Homo sapiens: one gene and its partners. The protein of the gene in region 1 purifies or fractionates together with the protein of each later gene. This does not show direct contact. Each region holds a gene or a part of one and is shown on either strand. Other genes may lie near its edges.

The links. Proteins that work in one complex are often made in the same cells at the same time.
Region 2: the proteins of TRIB2 (region 1) and DET1 purify together in Homo sapiens (affinity purification with mass spectrometry; 3 studies listed by BioGRID and IntAct, with this or other methods). This does not show direct contact.
Region 3: the proteins of TRIB2 (region 1) and COP1 purify together in Homo sapiens (affinity purification with mass spectrometry; 5 studies listed by BioGRID and IntAct, with this or other methods). This does not show direct contact.

The regions. Positions count from the first base shown.
Region 1 is NC_000002.12:12,719,934-12,726,961, forward strand, and holds part of TRIB2 (tribbles homolog 2), read left to right. Parts: intron 1-3,326; coding exon 3,327-3,619; intron 3,620-7,028.
Region 2 is NC_000015.10:88,529,667-88,536,694, forward strand, and holds part of DET1 (DET1 homolog), read right to left. Parts: intron 6,716-7,028; exon of another isoform or gene 6,669-6,715; coding exon of another isoform or gene 6,646-6,668; intron 2,050-6,645; coding exon of another isoform or gene 2,040-2,049; coding exon 957-2,039; intron 1-956. UniProt on the Homo sapiens protein: Component of the E3 ubiquitin ligase DCX DET1-COP1 complex, which is required for ubiquitination and subsequent degradation of target proteins. The complex is involved in JUN ubiquitination and degradation.
Region 3 is NC_000001.11:176,043,272-176,050,299, forward strand, and holds part of COP1 (E3 ubiquitin-protein ligase COP1), read right to left. Parts: intron 3,054-7,028; coding exon 2,910-3,053; intron 548-2,909; coding exon 439-547; intron 1-438. UniProt on the Homo sapiens protein: E3 ubiquitin-protein ligase that mediates ubiquitination and subsequent proteasomal degradation of target proteins.

The DNA.
Region 1 (7,028 bases):
ATTCTCAGAAGTCTGCAAGGTTGCACAATAGGATAGTCATCCTTTGAAATGAATGAATTCCACAGAACTGCCACTCTTGTATGAAATATGCACAATCACCCAGCAGTGAATATTTTCATTCCTTTTGCTCAACTTCAGTACAGCATTTTAATATTTTTCAAAGGCTGGAGATGCTTTTAAGTATAGGGACTCTGCAGCCAAATTCTGCAGGGGCATCTGGCTGTTACTTCTTTGTTTAAAATCAGAGGTGACTCTGGCCTCTGCTCATTCTTTCTCCAGATTTTGCAAGACATATTTCACTTTGGGCTGACCTTACAGTGTCATTTGCAGACTTGTGCTCTGGCCTCAAATTGGACTTAATCTGCTGGTTTAGTTATTGCAAAGATTGAATCAGCCCCTCACCAATTACAGTGTGGCTGCAAGTGGATTTAAGTGCAGTATCATTGTTCTGCTTGACAGAGGTCATCCCTTTAAGACACAGCAGCTTCTGTTTTCCTGACTTTTTACCATAGATGATGTGGGTGACTTCTTATGCAAGCATAGTTGTGTATCTCCGAAGAAGCTCCAAGAGAGTTTTATAAGGCTGCTTCTCTGAACTGCCCTGAGAGATATATATGCTGTGGTCTCTTAGCTTACTTTAAGGCTCAGTGAAATCTACACATTGAATCTAGTTCCTTTTGATGTCTTAGAATAGAAGGCTCATGTTTCCTAGCTGTGTGTTGACCAATGAAAAAATTCTTTGCAAAAACAGATCAAATGTAAAGATGCTATTTATTATAGGGGACTGCGTAGAGAATTCCATAGGACACTATTTGGAGGAATAGAGATTCCAGAGTCATTTAAACAAAATAATCAAGGCTGCTTATTGTCTCCATGTACCTACTTTTGCTAGATGAATGAAGGCACTTTAAGGAGTCTTTAACTGTATGTTTTCATGGAGATACTGGTAGCTACTGTGCAGATTGACATAATTACTATCTTGGCAGAATGGGTACTTTTTTTTTGCAAATGTTATTAATGATGGCCTAATCTTACTGCCTTATCTGAACTGTCACATTACATAACCAAGGCTCCAAATTAAACATGTAAAGAAGCTGGCACCAGGCTTGTGGCTTGATTTTGCACGTGAAGATGATGGTTTAAATACCAGTCCAAGCCCCTAAATGCCCCTGATAGCTACTAATAAAAGTTTGGCTCCTTCTCGTGTGGGAAAACATAAGTACTTATTTTATTTTTCATACTCTGTCCACCATCTTGGAATTTGGTCTCTTCTACAAAAGGTATGGCTACATTTGAAGCTGCCACAAATATGTTAGTTTTTTAAAAATTCTGTCTCCAGTTTTTCAGCAGTGGAGCAGGATAATAGGCTAAAAGTGCTGAGCAAAAGTCACCTTTTATGTTTTTGTAAATGCACCTGGAAACAGGAAGTAGATTATAAATAATCATAACTCTGTGAGCACTGGCGACAGAAGCTGCAACCTGGTATTTCAGAACACAGCATCTTCATTATATGATGCAGTGTTTACGTTAGCCACTGCAAAGCTTATTACTCCTCGAAATTTTTGAGGCTTCCCTGGGTTTCTGTTGCCTGCATTCAGGGTGTTAAAGTTGATTCAAGCATTTCAGATTCCTAATTGAACAGGCCTCTTAGGTCACTGCTCTTGGGTCATCATTTGACAGTATCAGTGTGTGATTTGTGGTCTCTGGAGATGTTGAAGTATTCTTTCTTAAATTCTAGGTTATAGTGGCAGCAGCTGTGCCGCTTTTCTGAGATGCCTCGTTATGGTTCATTCACAACATTACTGTTAACTTTGCTTCCTTGGCCGTGTTAGCAGCAACTCTTGAGGTTTTACATCCCTGTTTGACTCACAGATTTTGTTTCAATTTTTTGAAGCTTAGAGCAACTTAACTCATGGATTCTTAAATAGCAGTCTGTGGCTTTGGATGGGCTTCAGAAAGCCCGTGAATCCCCTTAAAATGAATCCGGTATCGTGCATGCATTTGAGAACGGGCATTGTCAGCTAAGAGGGAACAGAGCTTTTATCAGATTTTATGTGACATCAGGACCCAAAAAAGGTTAACACTGTTCTAAATCAACATCTTCATTTTATGAAGAGGAGGGAGGTCCAGTAACCCTAAGCTCTTTATCCATCTCATCCAGATTATTGGTGGCAGGGCCAGGATTAGTGCCTCAAGGTTGCCGACTTCCAGTCCAGCATATTTCCTACCACACTGCAAAATGATGATGAAAGAAAGTATGTCTAACTAGTGAAAAAGCGATTTAGGCAGCTAAATCATTGTGAACTGATAGCATGCAGTGTATTGTTAGGGCGTTCCTGCCTCAGATGCTTTCCAGCGAAGCTCACCCACGCATGCCCCTGGCTCACGCACACACTGAATAGATTCATCTTACCCACATCCCAGGCAGATAGAAAAACCACATTCCAGACCCAGGGACTTGTATTCCTGATTTAGTGGAGGTCTTGAAATGAATGAAAGCGCCTTTTATATAACCTCAAAAATTCTCTGTAGTGTTAATTGCTGTTAGGTCTGTTTCAAAAGGTATTGATGGTGCCTTTTCTTTTTAAGCAACCGCACAATGAGTTGGCATTTTGCAGGCTAATTTTGATTCATAGAAAATCATTGCATAACTGGTTCATTGAGTTAGATATCTGTGGAGGGAAGAGAGGAAGAAGCAAGGCTGCTTCCCTATTCAGAAGGATTCTATCATATTCCTACCTCTGCCACTGGGGGCTTGAGTTTTGGCTCATTCTCTGAGCCTCAGTTTCCATATCTGTAAAATGAAAGTATTGAATTAGAGACCACTGGGCAAAAGCTAGCTGTTTATTCTCTTAGTTGCTCATGTGTTGTATAATGCCTGTTTATGTGCATTTCTTTTTTTTTATTTTTGAAGGCAAATAAAGTGTTGTTGATGTCATTGAGGTGGATCACTTTCTCTCCAATTTTGCCTTAGTTCTATAAACACGCAATTGGGCTAGAGACAAAAGTAATGAAAATTATTATTTCTGTACTGCATTACGTTTTGCAAAGCACTATCACCTTCATTTTCTCATATAATCCTCCTAACACTGTGAGTCAAGTATCAGTTTCCCATGTTGTACGTAAAGATTTGGAGGCTCCGAGAGGTTAAGTGACTTGTTTAGTGCCACACAGCTGGTAGGAGGCAGGGCCAATGTGGTCTGGGTCCAAGTTCAGCATATTTTCTGTCATCTCAAAAGCCCATACCTGTGGGAGGTGCAGCATTATGTGTTTTGGTTGTACAAGAGGCACCTCTGACTTTGGTCTTACTGTTAATCCTGTCGTAGGTGTTTGATATCAGCTGCTACCAGGAATCCCTGGCACCGTGCTTTTGCCTGTCTGCTCATAGTAACATCAACCAAATCACTGAAATTATCCTGGGTGAGACCAAAGCCTATGTGTTCTTTGAGCGAAGCTATGGGGACATGCATTCCTTCGTCCGCACCTGCAAGAAGCTGAGAGAGGAGGAGGCAGCCAGACTGTTCTACCAGATTGCCTCGGCAGTGGCCCACTGCCATGACGGGGGGCTGGTGCTGCGGGACCTCAAGCTGCGGAAATTCATCTTTAAGGACGAAGAGAGGTAGGTCTCATCCTGTCCAGACCTGGGTACTGTGATGGACTGCTCCTAACAACAGCTTCCTAGAAAAGTCTTGAATGGACGTTTTTTTGCCGTCTGTGGTCCAGATGAGGGGAAGGAATCTTAGGAGGGCAAAAGGAAGTGAATATTGCAATTTTCAAGTGTTTGGGAAAACAAATAGCTACTATTCTAAAGGTGTCATCTGGTGCTCAAAGGACAGGTACCAGGATATTCTGTGACCCAATGAATATGTATGATTAGGTGTCTTGAATTCCGAAGGTGGCTGCAAACCTCTTTGACATTTTCAATGCCAGTAAAGGCAGGGCCTTGAAAATTCTACCCGCAGAACACTCAGCAGCCAGAATCAGTCATTTATAATTCATTCATCCATGCACTCATTCAGTAGCTCTTACCTAAGCTTATATTAGGTATTAGTCACAATTCTCAGTACTATTAATATCTAGATGAATTAGATAGCCAACGGACCTATAAAGGAAATGCTACCAGCTCAGAATAGAGGTCCGTGCTGGGTGGGATGAGAACTGGGGTGGTGGGGACATGTCAGTTCTCCCTAGGACTTGGAGAGTCAAGGAAGGTTTTACAGGAGGGGTGATTTTGGAGCCAAGACTCGAAAGATGACTGGATTTCAGGAAATGTGGGAAAGACCGCATTCCAGGTGAGGAAACTGCTGATGCAAATGCATGGCAGTGCAGAGGTCTTGGTTATTGGAGGAGACAGCTGGACAGGATGCAGGCAACTGGCTTATGCCGTTAACTCATTACCTTCTATTTAGCAGACTCTGCTGGGGCCCTGCTTTCTCTCCCAGCCGATTTTGATTACAAGAACTCCTTCAAGCCCTTTTTGTTCTTTTTAAGAATATGAGTTTAGAGGGACAGAGGCAACAAATCTGTATTCATTGCTCACCGTAGTTCCTGAATGAGGCCCCACATAATGTGGAGACCAGCTCATATCTTGATCTTTGCTTGTGAATGCCTTTACCTTTATTAACAAACTGAGAAGGGGCAGCTGTTGGAAGATTTAGAGTGTGGAACCACATTTACCTTTTCTCTTCCGCTCAGATGCCTCTGCCCCTGGAGCCTGGAGATGTTTCCCCTGGTTTTGCCTTCGATACCCTCTGTGATCTTGGATTGGTCCTTCGTCTGTTTCCACCCTCCCCCTACCAGCCTCATATTTCTCCTTCTGTTACCTTCTGTATGCTGTATTGGCTCTAAGGTCTTTTCAATTAATAATAAATTGGTGTATGTGCTTCTTTGAATATTCTCATTTAGAAGATGAATATATGTTGACCCCCAACGATACTGACAAAGGTATTCTCTCTACCCTTGTATGTTCCACCTTTCTTGGAGATTTAATAACTGCACCTACAAAAATAAGAGGTCATATTTGTTTACCTCTTACCATAAGGTTAAAGTTTAATTCTCTCTCCCTATTGAAGTGAATGTCATCATGTCCATTGTATAGACGAGAGCTCCAAAGTGCAACGTGGTGAAGTCCCAAAGTTACGGACAGGAAAGAGCAGAAGTAAGGCCACATTCACTAGTAAGTCAGCTCTCAAGAAATTCATTTGTCTGCCAGAGGGCATGGGGACAGCAAATGCCCTCTCTCGCAGGGATCTGTGTTTTTAAGTGTCGTCTTTGATTGTGTTTCCATAGGGAGGAACTCTCGGGCACCAACGAGTAGAAGGAATGGCCTATTCAGGGATAGGACCCCCATAGTGAATACATGTTTGTGCAAATGAGTAGAGCAGGGTGGAGGTCCCCAAGTCATAGAACATGGGAACAAAAGTGGACCCGGAGGTTGCATAGTCTGTGTGGCACTCTCTTGGTTTGCTGCCAGGAGGCAGAACTCCAGAGGTGAGAGCACGCCCCAGTGCACACAGCTAGCTAGGAGCCAGTGAAGCACAGCCAGGCCTCACCTGGGCTGTGGAGGGCTTTTACTCCCACCCAGCCTTTGCTTCTCCTTTATGAGTGTGTCATCACACGCCAAAATCCTTGATGTCCCAGGATCCAGGGAAGAAGCTTCCAACCTCAGGAGTGTGTGCCTCTGACATTCCGTCTGGAAGTTACGTTTGACTTTCGCGAAAGAGCATGACCCTGTCCAGAGATAACCAGAAAGGAGTATCCAGTGTGAATGTGAAACCGAAACAATTGCCTGGAGTAAACATGTCAAAGCAAAATCCTTTTTCATTTTCAAGAGCATTTTCCAAGGTAAAAAGAGAATGTAAAGGACTGTAGGGAGCTGGCCTATATAGTCCCTACAGCATGGTGGCATGTGTGATAGCCCCTTTGGCCATGCAGCCGTGTTGCCCCAGGGGCCAGCCTTGAGGCTGATGCCCTGTAGGACCTTGGAGAAAATGAGAACTCCTCCATCTGATCAGTGAGGTTACTTGGCCTCATGGCAGGGTCACCTAGCTGGCTTAATGTTACACAGCCAGTCTGAGGGTGCAGCCAGCCTGGAAATCCTGTCATTCCATCGAGAGCTCTTCTTCCAGCCCAAGTCACATGGAGGTCCCAGTGGGCTTGCTTTTCAGGAACATGACAAGTGTCTGTCTGGGCAGCTCTGAGAAGGTCACCTCTGTTTTCAAGGACATTTTGAATGTTCTCAGCAGTAGCTGATTGATAAAGAGCTTTTTTGTTTTTCTAAAATCCAACTATCAACTTTTTGTGAAAGGGGAATCATGCCTAGTCACCTTTTTCTTCTTGTTGTTTTGTATTTTAACCTCTCGATTCCAGAATGTGAAACTTCTGCTTTTTGTTCCACAATGTATTTCTCCTTCTCTGCCTCCTGGCAGCATTGAGTTTCATGGCAGATTCTCTTTTATTTGGCCTGCATGGTGGCCTACATGGAGCACATTGCCAGCACTTCCTGAGGGAAGAGTGTGAGGCCAAGTGTCAGGGGCCCAGGACCTCATTGGCTCCATGCTTGCTGCTGGGAACTCTCATCTTCCACCCTAATTGCATCACTTTTAGTGGAGCTAAAGCTTCCTTCTCCCTCAACAACATCGAAAGTGTAAGGAAGCAATGGGTTAAATTTTAAAGGCTTTTGGAAAGCTAAACCACAGAGTTAATGTCTGTTTTCTCACCTTTTGGGCATTGGTCCCACGGTGAAAAAGCAAAGAAGCAAATTTGGGAAGTGCTGCTTTATTCATCTTCTGACCATCACACACCTCTTTTGCGCATCAGTCTTCTTCTCAGTGATGTGCTTCTTGAACTCTGGTGATCTGGAAAGCAATCGAAAGTGCAGGCTTTACGTGTGAAATTGGCTGAGGCCCACCTGGTGCAGAAGAAGACCTGCCTATGGGCTGACTCCTTGTGCCTAAAGTTTCGATTGTGTGCCATCTGGGACTCTGCATCCATGGCCATCCATGGAAACGTTGTTAGTGGAACTGCCA
Region 2 (7,028 bases), on another chromosome or scaffold:
AACTCAGTTGACTTCGTGGTTTACTGATTTGCTGGTTGTTCTGAATTTCCAAACTAGTGTCTAAGGAGACAATCTGCAAACAGGAGAATGGGGAGACATAGGTGTAGAAAGGTAGTTGTCTAACTTGGTCAACACTGAAGTGGAGAGGTTTTCAAAGACAAATGCCCAAATTACCCTTAATTTCAACATAGTTTTTCAATCCCCAAATCTTAGCAGTTCTGTGCTCTTTATATCACCTTATTCCCTTTTGGGAAATGCTTCTTCCCCCTACTGAAAGAAAGGCATTCTTCCCCCAAACTGAAAAACCTTTAAGATTTGCTGTCCTGATGACTCTCCTCACGGATCATAAATTTCAGCTTCCTTTTGACCTCTTCACTGCTCTACAACCTATGTCCCAGCATGTGGGCAAGGTCAGGGTAAAGTCACAAAACTTAATTCTGCCAAATGAATGCACTTATTAGTTACCTTATAAATAGGACTTTATAGTACTTTACAGAGAAGTAAATTGACATTAACCATTTAAGGATGAAAGTGGGGTTACTTAGAGAATTTTCTTTTTGGTATGGTGTACTCATTCTCATTGCCAGAACTAAAACAGCCAGACCAATAATACAGTCTTACAAAATCAAGGGAGGTTATCCATAAGTAGTCCAAACCTTGACCTTGTAGCATTTGGGCTTCCATCTCATGAGTACTGAAAATACTCTGCAGAAGAGTTAGGGTAGTAATCAGAGGTGACTATCTTCCTGTCAATGACTTGAACTTTAGCTTCCATTTGTCCAGATAAATACATATGACCAGAGAAAAATGGAGCTGATTTTAAGTTTGGGCCCTAGGATATCAATTCAGACTACGTGAAATGTCTATTTCTGAGGGGTGGGCTATAAACAAACAGAGAAACCTTCCCATTTTGCCAAGGAGATTAGACAAGTAAAAGGCAGGAGTGTACCTCATACCTGTGATGGATCTGTGACTCGCAGTGTTACTACATCCTCACTAGTGTACTTGATAAACAGGTGGTTTTCATCCAGAAGCTGCATTTTCCACATTCGCAGCTGCCGCAGTTGGTCAAAATACTGGAAGAAGCGCCTCTTGGCCATTGCACTACCATCCTGTTCTGCCCGGCGCCACAAATATACCAGCAACCGGTGTTTGAGGGAATTGATGAAAGGATCCCTAAAGGGATTGGCCATGCCTGTCTGACTGTCCCGCTGTACCTCAGGGAAAACAGCTGACACAGTGAGCAGGTCATCCTCATAGCAAAAGCGGCCAATGGTCCGCACATCAATGAAAGTGCCTTCAGGAGTCACCTGGAAGACATGGATGGTCTGTTGTTGCACAGACAAGATGGCCAGGATGTTTTTGTACAAGTACAGCCCTTGGTTGTGTGACAAGACCACCTTGTCACACTTGAACGTGCGTGTATCACATAAGCGGCCGGTGTGAAGGTCAATGATATGGAGGGAATAGTCTTCTAGAGGGGACCGTGGGTTGGGGGTCACTGATTCACTGTTCCGATATACCTCAAAAAATGGAGGGTGAGGCTCATCTGGGAGGTAGGCAGCTGAGCCCACGATGACACAGCGGCAGTCATCAGTGAAGAGACTACACTCCCGGTTCAGGTGCTCACCATTGGCCGCAACATTGGTAATGTGCAGCAGGACAAAAAAGCGTTCAAAGAGCCGGCCCCGGATATTCACTGACCGCTGGTCATTGCCATTGGACAGGATTTCTCCTTCGTATCCCTGCAGTAGGTCCTCTGCTGCCTGGCAGCCCTGGTACTCATAGATTTCAAGAGATGTCTGGTCTGAAGAAAAAGCAATAAAGTAGCGTCCATCAGGTGAGAATTTACGCAAGAAACAAGGAGGCTTTTCAACGTTGACAACTGTGAAGTTGGGGAAGACATTCTGATGGAACACTCGGACTTGGTGCCAGTGGGTACCTGCCTTGCCTGAACTGATCCGCCGGCGTTCCAAGCGGTGAATGACATTTTGGTTTTGGATTCTTCGAGGCTTGATGGTAGAAACATGATGATCCATTATCACATCTCTAAACAGAAAAGTAAAGCAGAAGTCAAGAAAGTGAAACAGAATTTACCAAAATATAAATATATACAAGTGAAACAGATTTCTCTTCTTATATCCTGAACCTAGGAGCTCCCAAGATGACAGTGACTGGCATTACTACTTCCCAGATTATACTGAGTAAGTGGTCCTAACATTTCTAAGTCTAGAAACAGGTCTAAGGGAAGGATCTAGTTCACTAGGAATACCTTCCAAGTATGCTCAGCTGTTGGGAAAGTTCAACAGAAAAAAACCTACAACTACAAATTTGAACAGTATAAGACACATTCGGCTGGGCGCAGTGGCTCACACCTGTAATCCCAACACTTTGGGAGGCCGAAGCAAGTGGATCACCTGAGCTCACTAGTTCAAGCCCAGCCTGGAAAACATGGCAAAACCCTGTCTCTACAAAAAAATATAAAAATTAGCTAGGCATGGTGGCACATGACTGTAGTTCCAGCTACTTGAGAGGCTGAAGTGGAAGGATTGTTTAAGCTTGGATCATCGAAGCTGCAATAAGCCGTGGTCACAACACTGCACTCCAGCCTGGGCAACAGAGTGAGACTCTATCTCAAACAAACAAACAAAAAAATCATATTCAATGTGCATTCATTCCAGCAAAAAATATTTATTGGGCTGTTAAGATATCCATATTACCCAAAATAATCTACAGATTCAATACAAACCCTATCAAAATCCTAATAGCACTTTTCACAAAGATAAAAAATTCATCCTAAAATTCATATGGTATCTCAAGGGCCTCCAAATACACAAAATAATTTTGAAAAAGAACAAAGAGGATTCAAGCCTCTTGATTTCAAAATATATTACAAACCACAGTAATCAAAAAATTGTGGTACTGGATAAAGACAGACACAGACCAATGAAATGGCCCACAGATAAACTCTGGCATATATGGTTAAACAATCTTTGATAAGGTCCTACTACTACTCAATAGAAAAAGGACAGTCACTTCAACAAATGGTGTTGGGAAAACTGAATAGCCACATGCAAAAGAATGAAGTCAGACCCTATCTTACACCCTATACAAAAATTAACCCAAAATAGGAAAAGAATCTAAATATAAGACCCATAACTATAAAACTACTAGAAGAAAATACAGGAGGAAAGCTTCATGACATCAGATCTGGCAGTGATTTCTTGGATAAGACACAAAAGGCATAGGCGACCAAGACAAAAATAGACAAATGGGAATACATCAAACTTAAAACTTCTGTGATCAAAGGACACAATCAACCGAGTGAAAGGGCTTTCTACAGAATGGAAGAAAATATTTGCAAATCATATATTGGATAAAGGGTTAATATCTAGAACATATAAAGAACTCCTATAACTCAATAACAAAAAATCATATACCCAATTTTAAAATGGTCAAAGTACTGGAACAGACATTTCTCCTATACAAATGGCCACAAAGCATATGAAAAGATAGATGCTCAACATCACTAATCATCAGAGAAATGTAAATCAAAACTACAATGGGATATCACCTCACACCCATTAGAACGACTGCTTTTTTTAAAAAAAGAAAATGACAAGTTTCATTGAGGACATAGAGGAAGTTGAACCCTTGTGCATTGTTGGTGGAACTGAAAAATAGTACAGCTACTAAGGAAAACAGTATGAAGGTTCCTTGAAGAAAATTAGAACTACCATAAGATCCAACAATTCTACTTCTGGGTATAAATCCAAAATAACTGAAAGCAGGATTTCTAAGAGATATTTGCACACCCATGTTCATATCAGCGCTATTCATAGTAGTCAAGAGATGGAAGCAACCCAAAAGTTCACTGATGGATGAGTGGATAAACAAAATATGGTATATACACACAAAGGAATATTACTCGGCCTTCAAAAGGAAGAAAATTCTGACATATGCTACATCACTGAAACTTGAGGACATTATGTGAAGTCAAATAAGCCAATCACAAACAGACAAATACTGTATGATTCCACTTAAATGAAGTATCAAACGTAATCAAATTTAACAGCCAGGTGCCATAGCACACACCTGTAATCCCAGCTACTTGGGAGGCTGAGGTGGACCACTTGAGCCCAGGAGTTTGAGTCTAGCTTGGGCAACAGAGCAAGACCCAATCTCTAAAAAAAAAAAAAAAAAAAAAAAATTAATGTAAAATACTTATCATTAAAAAAAGAAAAAGGAATCAAATTCACAGAAACAAAGAAGAATGGTGGTCACCAGGGACTAGCAGGAGGGGAAAGAGAAGGTGCTGTTGAATGGGTTAGACTTTTCAGATTTTCAAGATGAAAAACTTCTCGAGATCAATTTCACAATGTGAATATACTTAATACTACTGAACTGTACACTTACAATCAGTTAAGACGGTAAATGTTAGGCTATTTTAAAATCACAATAAAAATATGTTTTAATATTTATGGGGCATCTATTATATGGCAAAGTCTTCTAATTGTTTTATTATACCTTGATTCAAATCAAAGTTAAATCACAGGCCATAAAAGTCAACGGCATTTAGTGAAAAACTTAAGTTATAAAGCTGTTGCCAGATAAGATGGAATAATCAAACACCACCTTCTCTCTCCCACTAAAAATGCAGCTATAAAACCTAGACAGAATGCATAAGACAGGCATATGAGAAAAACCAATTGGCTAACAATAAAGTACCACTGAATGGGCAGTGAGGTTAACATTGTCTCCCCTGGTTCTCCTGCTGCTTGAAGAGCAAGTGTGTTGCAAGGAAGGATAATTAAAGCCCCAATTTTGTCATCAGAGGATCAAAAGGGAGACCCCAGTGGAACCAGAAGGTACTGGGGAGATATCAGATGGGGAGGAGCTCAGAAAAGTAACATCATGAAGTTGTTCATGAACTCCCAAGCTGCACACGTGTGGATCTGGTCCAAATCATACTAAAGGCTTTGAGAACTGAAATAATCAACACCCAGATTGCAGACTGGCCACTGAATGTCACATACATGGGACAGATCCAAATAGCACTGCAAAGACTTTCTGAAAATTCATCTGCCATTAGAACCATAGCCTAAAGAGAGTTACAAATTGCAAATTCCCTGAAGCTAATTAGGTAGATTGCCTACCAAGCCAAAAATCACCAACATCCTCTTAGGATTTAAACAAGCCCTATCATCTTATAATATTCAAAATGTCTAGGAAACAATCCAAAATCATTCAGCATATGAAGTACTAGGAAAAAACTCAATCTAGAAAAGACAATTGACAGACACCAATGTTGAGATGCTACAAAAGTTGGAATTCTCTGAGACAGATTTTGAAGTACCTATTATAAAAATGTTCCAATAAGTAATCACAAACACTCTTGAAATGATGGAAAAACAAAGTCTCAGCTAAGAAACAGAAGATATTTCTTAAAGATCCAGATAAGAAGTTTAGAGCTGAAAAAGCAATAACCAGCATACAAAACTCTTCTAGCTTCCATAGACTCTAGTAAAATATCTTTTAAAAATTTAAAAACAATTCTGAAAAAGAATAAAAAACTCACTGATGGGCTCAAGGGCAGAATGAAGTCATCAGAGAAATGAGTCAGTCACCCTGAAGATAGATTAGTATACATTACCCAATGTGAACAAAAGAGGGAAAAAATAAAAAGACTGAAAAAAAGTCAGTAAAGCCTCAGGGCCCTAGGGAAAATATCAAAAGTTGTAACACCCTGATCTTGAGGAGTAGAATGCTAAGAAAAAAAAAAAAAATTAAGAAATAATGGCTGTAATAGTTGGTGGTGGTGGCACACATCCATAATCCCAGAACTTTGGGAGGCTGAGATGGGCAAATTGCTTGAGCCCAGGAGTTCAAGACCAGCCTGGGCATCATGGCAAAACCCCATCTCTACTAAAAATACAAAAAGTAGCCGGGCACAGTGGTGTGCACTTGTAGTCACAGCTACTCAGGAGGCTGAGGTGGGAGGATCACTTGAGCCTGGGAAGCAGAGGCTGAAGTGAGCTGAGATCATGCCACTGCACTCCAGCCTGGGCAATGCAGTGAGACTCTGTCAAAAGAAAGAAAAAAAGAAAGAAAGAAAGGAAGGAAGGGGAAAAAAAGAAAGATGAAAGAAAGGAAGGAAAGAAGAAAGGAAGGGAGAGAGGAAGGAAGCAAGGGAAGGAGGAAGGAAATTTCCCAAATTTGGCTAAAGATATAAACTCCAATTCAAAAGGTTCAGAGACCCCCCAAATTCAGGAAGTTCAGAGACCCTCAAATATGATAAATCCAAAGAAATCCATGCCCAGGCACATCATAGCTAAAATGGAAAAAACTAAAAGATATACAGTAAAAACCTCTAAAGTAACCAGATAGAAACCACGTATCACCTATAGAGGTGCAACAATTCAAATGTCTGTAGATTTCTCATCAGAAACCATGGAAGTTAGAAAGAAGTGGAACAACATTATTTAAGTGCTGAAAGATCTGCCTCTGTTTCATCATTCAAGTCTCAGCTAAAATAGTACCTCCTCAGAAATCTTCCCCAGGCACCTTACGTCTGCCCACATGAATTTACTGATACACCCTATATTATTAATGGTCTTTATCTCTTCCTGAAATTAAGTTGTTTACCTTTTTAGTATCTGTCCCACCATACCAGAGAGCAGGGAACTGGTCTAATTCCTTGCTGTATTCCCAGCACCTAGGAGAAGGGACAGTTAAGCGCTCATAAATATGTTAAAATAATTAATGGAGCAACAATTGGTATGAGCCTTGAAGAATAAGAATACACTAAACAAAGTAAAAGAGGAACAAACTGGCCGGGTGCAGTGGCTCACGCCTGTAATACCAGCACTTTGGGAGGCTGAGGCAGGGAGGTCACAAGGTCAGGAGTTCGAGACCAGCCTGGCCAACATAGTGAAACTCCATCTCTACTAAAAATACAAAAATTAGCTGGGCATGGTGGCGGGGACTCCAGCTACACAGGAGGCTGAGGCAGGAGAACTGCTTGAACC
Region 3 (7,028 bases), on another chromosome or scaffold:
AAGCAGAAAGAAGACAGTAGCCTCAGATAGAATACAGATCTCAAAATGAATAAAGCAAGAAAAAAAAAAACCTGATATCAATTTATTGTTACGGGGAGAGGGAAAGACAACAGGCTAGAAAACAAATGAAAAGCAAATAAGATGTTGATATAAAGTACTTCCAAAACTTTTTATACATTTACCAAAATTATTGCTTTTAGAAATTTACCTGATACATTCCATAAAGACCGAAGTCTGAAGAAATGCTTTGGAAAAGCATATGGTACCAAAAGTGGGAGACAGGAAAAAAAAGCATTTGGTATTGCATAGGTGTTACACAGGTATAAAAAATACTAAATAGTGACTTCAAATCTGTAATTATAAGGCACATGAAGTTCTAAAAGTTTTAACAAACCAAATGTATGATTCATATAACATGTAACTAGTACCCTTATTTACCTGATAGACCTTTGACCTCTGTCCTGTGAATCCATCCCATAAAATAACAGTGCCTTCATAATCACTGCTAGCTAACAGGTTCTTATGGTAACTACTCCAACTGATACAGCTGAAAGAAATACAGTTAAAAGTTACTTTACATAAAAATAAATAACAATGGGATAAAAATAATTTTAATGTGTTCAGAAAGATTTGCACTATTTTAAAATGGTCTCTATCAGTTCACAATCATTATTCTGCCCACAACATACCTGGGAAAAGACATACCAATAATTTTGAAATTTTAAAAATAAAAATTAACAAGTAATGACCCTAACCACCTTTTACTGTGATCACTAGCTGTTAAGATGGATGTGAGCCTAGAGCTATCACTGGCCATCTTTGATACATGAGGAAACGATGTCTATCAGTGAAGGTGATACTATCCAGAGGGCTCAAGGCATACCATGGCAGAATGACAGACCTGATGAGACTGTTTAACCCCCTGGATCCAGTTGTGCCAAATCATATAAGCCAAATAAACTACAGTGAATTGGGTTTCTGTATTTACATCCCAAAAGTCTTGACTTGACTAATTATAACTTATGACTAAAATTCCAATTAAAAGCATCTAAAAGTTAGAATCAAACTTTTATCATTTATGGTTTTGGCTATTCTCAAGTACTCCAGAAGTCTACAACATCTAAAAACTTCTGCTGAGATACATATCTGCATCACGCATATAGTAAAGGGAATGCATATTATGGAAGAAGTTACTTAGAAGGCAGTTAATGTAGGTAACTTCTAAGACATGAACACAAGGTCTTTTGCTTTCTACTAGTTGCATTGATGCTAAATTCCAGAGACTGGAAGAGTTTATTTGCATTTTTAAATATACTTAATTAGAATTTCTGGTAGAAATTATCTGGAACAATTAAGAGACACATTTTGAATTTAGGTAGACTTGAGTTCAAATTCCAGATCTGTTACTTATTAGCTGTGGCTCTGGCTAATTTAGTACACTTTCACAGTAGATGTGCTCCGAATCTATTTTAGGCATCCTTAGGTATTGATCCTTTCAGCCCCAGGCCCACAGCTTTCAGCCTTGAGCGCTTTCACCATTTATTCCAATATATCAGGAAGTATTGCACATTTTTACACATACAAATACAGAACAGGTAGACAGCACATTTAAACTTTCTAATCCACGTTTTCATTATGTAATATATTATGAGTACTTGCCATGGGCCAAGTGTTGTTCTGAGTGCATTATGGGGATTTTTTAAAAGTACAATCCTATTAAATAAGTATTACTATTGTGACCTCCATTTTATAAATAAGGAGCAGGAAATGTTTAAGGGCACAGACTCTAGAACCAAACTACTTCAGTCTGAATCCTGGCTCCTCTATATAGCAGGTGTATAATCTTAGGCAGGTTATTTACCTTCCTGTGCTCAGCTTTCTTTGTATAAAATGGAGCAATAATGGTAACTATTTCATAGGTCTGCTAAAGACCAAGCACTTAGGATAATGCCTGATATATAAGAATTCAATAAACTTGTATCTAATTCATGTTATATCCTCTTCACTTAGGACATAAACTATAACAGATTCTCAATGATGAGTGCCACAAATGAATGGGGAAGCTCACCAATTATCGATATAGTATTTTTATAAATGAACTAGAAAAAAGAAAGTTATAACAAATAAATTATACAAAGACTGTAACAAACATACTATGTATGCCATTCATTAAAGATAAAAAAGGTTCAAGGATGGCTATTTTGAAAATGTTCAAAGTTCTATACAAAGTTATTATTAGATGATTTCCTCATATAATTCTCTTTTAAAGCCAGTGCTCATGAGAACAGCTTGGGAAGCTTGTTTAGAAGGAAAAAAAAAAAAAAAAAAGCAGATTCTAGAATTCTTCTGAGATTTTTTGGGGAGCAGATCAGGAGTAGAGTCTTAACATACTGTTAGTGTTTAAGAGTATTTTAGGTTTGAAAAGCACTGCTTATAAAGTATAATCTCTAATACAGAAAACATAAACACCATTCCTTCAGTGAAAAGCAGAATATTCTTGTAAAAAAAATTCTTAAAACTAGAAACAATTCTAATATGTTGAGATATGTGCAGGCTAGGGGAAAAATTCCTGATGTTCAAATACTATTCATAAGCTACATTAATCCTCATTCAGTACTCCATAGAGTCTCCAACAACCATGTCCAACAAAGACCTTTATTTGATTAAGTGAAAGAAGAACTTTAATTTGGCAACCAGAAAAAAAAAAAAGGCTAACCTCACAAGAAAAAAGCAACCAATATCTGTAAGAAAGATGATATAAGTAATAATATATACTCTGTATACATAGTACAATAATAGTGTTCACCATGAGTAAAAAGTGTCATGCAAAGGTAAAATAATCTCATGATAATTACATATGCAAATTGTTACATCTATACTGCATCATGTCAAGAAAATAATGTAAATACCTGATTTTCGAATTGCAGGTCATTTCATTCTCAGGGTAATGAATATCCACTGCATCCTGGATGACAGTGTCATATTCATAGACTTTAATCTTCTTTGTAACTCCAGCAATCGCAAAATAGTCACAATCCCGGTCAAATTCAATACTAAGGGGAAAAAGTATGTAATGACAACATTTCAGAATTTGCTATTTTCTATTTCTAAAGTAATTCGGTCTACAAGGATAAAAGATCTACTTTAAATACCTTCAAATTGTACTAGACCTCATATCCAGATTAAGTAATCAACACATATCAAATTAAAAGTTGTTGAGATTTGTGTAATATAAAACTTTTAATATATACATTTGTATATCTACACAATTGTGCACAGGTGTACTTTTGTTCCAAGACACCTGACATGCTTTTCATTCAGTTCTAATAACCATATTACAGCTTACTGAGAAAGATTTAATGGCGTGAATCATTTGATATACTAAAAGTATGCCAAAAGACAATTATCAACTAATTTTTCCATACATTCTACTTATTTCCCTGCCATTTTGTGGAGGTAGTAGAATTTCACAATATTAAATTTTATTTTTAATAAATAAATTAGTATATAATTTGAATTACTGAAGCAATTGGGTGATGACAAGGGGATGGAATACATATAACAGAACCACTGAATTATCATTACTTTTCCCCAAATCCATACCTAATCCCCCTCCCCAAATATCTCTCTGAATTATAAAACCCCAATACACATTCCTCATATCACAAAAGAGGTTAAATAAATAAATAAATAAATAATCTCCTTTCCTTCAGCGTTATTCACTCCTCTCTTGCTGATCATTTTTATATAAGCTCCAAAACAAGCTATTTGAAAGCAAGTACAAGATCATACTCGCTTTTACAGAACTTGCAGCCTAAACACAGTTGTTACATAACCAGCTGGAAATCTAATTAGCCCAAAGGTAGTAAAAGTTGAAATGAATCATCACATACATTATTCCTCAATATGATTTAAGCATCTTTTCTAGAGGTTTAGCGATAAGAATTCTCACTGATCTACAATTAATTACACAATAATACCTAATATTCATTAATCATTCACTTACTAAAACATTTTGCATGTATTACCTCATTTAGTCCTCATAACAACCTGTGATATATGTATTATTATTATCTACATTTTACAGATGAGAAAATGAAGATTAGAGGTGAGGTAAATTGCCCAAAGTTAGTCAATCTGTAAGTGGCTGAGGTGGGATTCAAACACAAGGTAGTCTGGTTTCAGAGCTGGTGCTAATAATTACTATGCTTTATTACAGATCAAAGCTCTTAATGTAAAACTCAAAGTGTAAAGGCTAAAGGTTTAAAGGTTTAAAATCTATGTGTATGAATGTATCTTCAATATCTATGTATGTGTGTTTCTTCTCTCAAAATGCCTAGCTAGTGCTCTGTATCTATTAAGCATTCATTTAATGCACAAAATACAAACACCTACATACAAAAATACAAACATCCATTTTCTTAATATCCATTCACAGAACAGTTAATGATTAATGATTTATTAAGAAGCTTGCTGAACTGATGATGGTAAGTAAGAAAAAGACACATTAAGAATATTTCAGGCTGGGTTCGGTGGCTCATGCCTGCAATCCCAGCACTCTGAGAGACCGAGGTGGGAGGATCCCTTGAGTCCAGGAGTTTGAGACCAGCCTGGCAACATAGTGAGACCCGATCGCTACAAAAAAATGAAACAATTAGTGAGGCATAGTGATGGGTTCTTGTCTCCAGAGACTTGGGAGGCTGAGGTGGGAGGACTGCTTGAACCCAGGAATTTGAAGCTGCAGTAAGCCATGACTGTGCCACTGCACTCCAGCCTGGGTGACACAGCAAGACCCTGTCTTAAAAAACAACTACAACAACAACAAGGACTATTTCCCTTAAAGACACACATTGATACGCCCACTTTTCTTTACAGCTTTAAATGCTTCCTTAATTTTATATAATTTTTTAAAGAATTAAAATTCTTTTTTTTTTTTTTTTTTACAGAGATGGGGTCTCACTATGTCGCCTGGGCTGGTCTTGAACTCCAGGGCTCAAGCAATCCTCCCACCTCAGCCTCCCAAAGTGCTGGGATTACAGATTTCAGGCGTCAGACATGGTGCCCAGCCAATTTAAAAAAAAAATTTATTCAGTTAAGTGTCACTGACTAGGGCACAATTCAGCAAATGTTCCCTCCAGTAAAGTATGATACTATAGCAATGCAGTAGATTTATTTGTACAACCTCAATTGAACTGCTGCCTCAGCTACTACTTGCTGCCATGTGGATTTTAATGCACCATAACTATAATGATGACAACTATTCATCTATCCCAACTCAATTTATACCCATAGTCTCATGTCACTGAAGGAGAAATACTACTTTATCTGGTAAAGGACAGAGTTATTATCAGAACTGAAATCCTGTTTTTAATTTAGGAGGTTTTGGTATAGCTGAGACTTCAAGTGAACTAGTTATCACTAAATACTTTTTCTCCGCCTACTCATATACATAGCTAATCAACACCATTCCAATGTTGTGCCAGTAAAAGTATGCCATTACTAAACTATTAGTTTTAACATATATAATACGTTTAAACACTAACCTATCAAAATAATAGCTTAAATACATTACAGGGAGAAAACTGACACATAAGTAAAAATGCTGTCAAAAGAATTAAGGGCCGGGCGCGGTGGCTCACGCCTGTAATCCCAGCACTTTGGGAGGCCGAGGCGGGTGGATCATGAGGTCAGGAGATCGAGACCATCCTGGCTAACAAGGTGAAACCCCGTCTCTACTGAAAATACAAAAAATTAGCCAGGCGCGGTGGCGGGCGCCTGTAGTCCCAGCTACTCGGGAGGCTGAGGCAGGAGAATGGCGTGAACCCAGGAAGCGGAGCTTGCAGTGAGCCGAGATTGCGCCATTGCAGTCCGCAGTCCGGCCTGGGCAACAGAGCGAGACTCCGTCTCAAAAAAAAAAAAAAAAAAAAAAAAAGAATTAAGATGATGACCTAAATATGTCTATTATTTCTTCTGCTGGTATCCTGTTATTCAAGACAGCTCTCTCTCTTTTTTCTACATGTTATTATTTAGTGACATTAGCTAACTCTTAACTCTCATATTAAAAAGTTAACTTTTTGTTTTGATTTCATTGCTATTATTTTCTTACATTTTGGTTATGTTTTGTTTTTAATATATTAAGGTATCAAGAACCTGTAGAGTATGTTTTTAAAAATATTTTGGGGGTAACAAGATCCTTTTATACTGTAAAAATAGATTTTAATAGAAATATTAATCAAAAAGTATAAAGAATAATATTATTTCTAGAAAATTTTGATTAAAAGGGAAAGAAAGACAAACAGGTCCCCCCCCTCAAACCACCTTTTTTAGTGGAAGAACTTCCACATCACTAAGACTCAGGATTTAAGGACTTCTAGATACTGAAACATTTGCTCCCTATCTCTGACATATTTAATCATATATATTCTCAAACATGAACATAATGAGATTCTAAAAACAGATCATGAACTAACTGAAATGAACACTGTAATTTTCAGGTGCAGAAAGCTTTCTAGAACTAATACAAAACAGATGACCTCTTATATTAACAGTATGATATTTCAACTACTTTTATTATGAAATCTGATAACCCAAGCAAAAGTACTTCAAAAGTTAAACAGTGACTAGTTAGGCTGAGACTAAATAAAAGGTAAACTAATTAACTGAAATGTTGCTTATGCAATTAAATTCAAAAACAAACTTTAAGTCTTACTACTGCTATACAACGTTCATTTCTGCCATCCACTGTCAGCAGTAATAATTAAAACAAGAGATTTATAAAAATTTACTGCATGACAAATTCAATTTCACAGAATTTGTTTTTAATTTCAACATACAAGTATACTTTTGAAAAATCGTGTTTCTGGGGACATAAATTGCATTTTTCTTTCACATTTTGAAACATTTCAACTGTTAAAAGAGTGATTTATATCAACAGCTGAAATACGTAATTCAGCTGTAGGAAACTAGCTGTATTCTTTGTCAAAAATGTCATTAGTCAAGTGATTAAGCAGCAAGGCAAGAAACTGCAC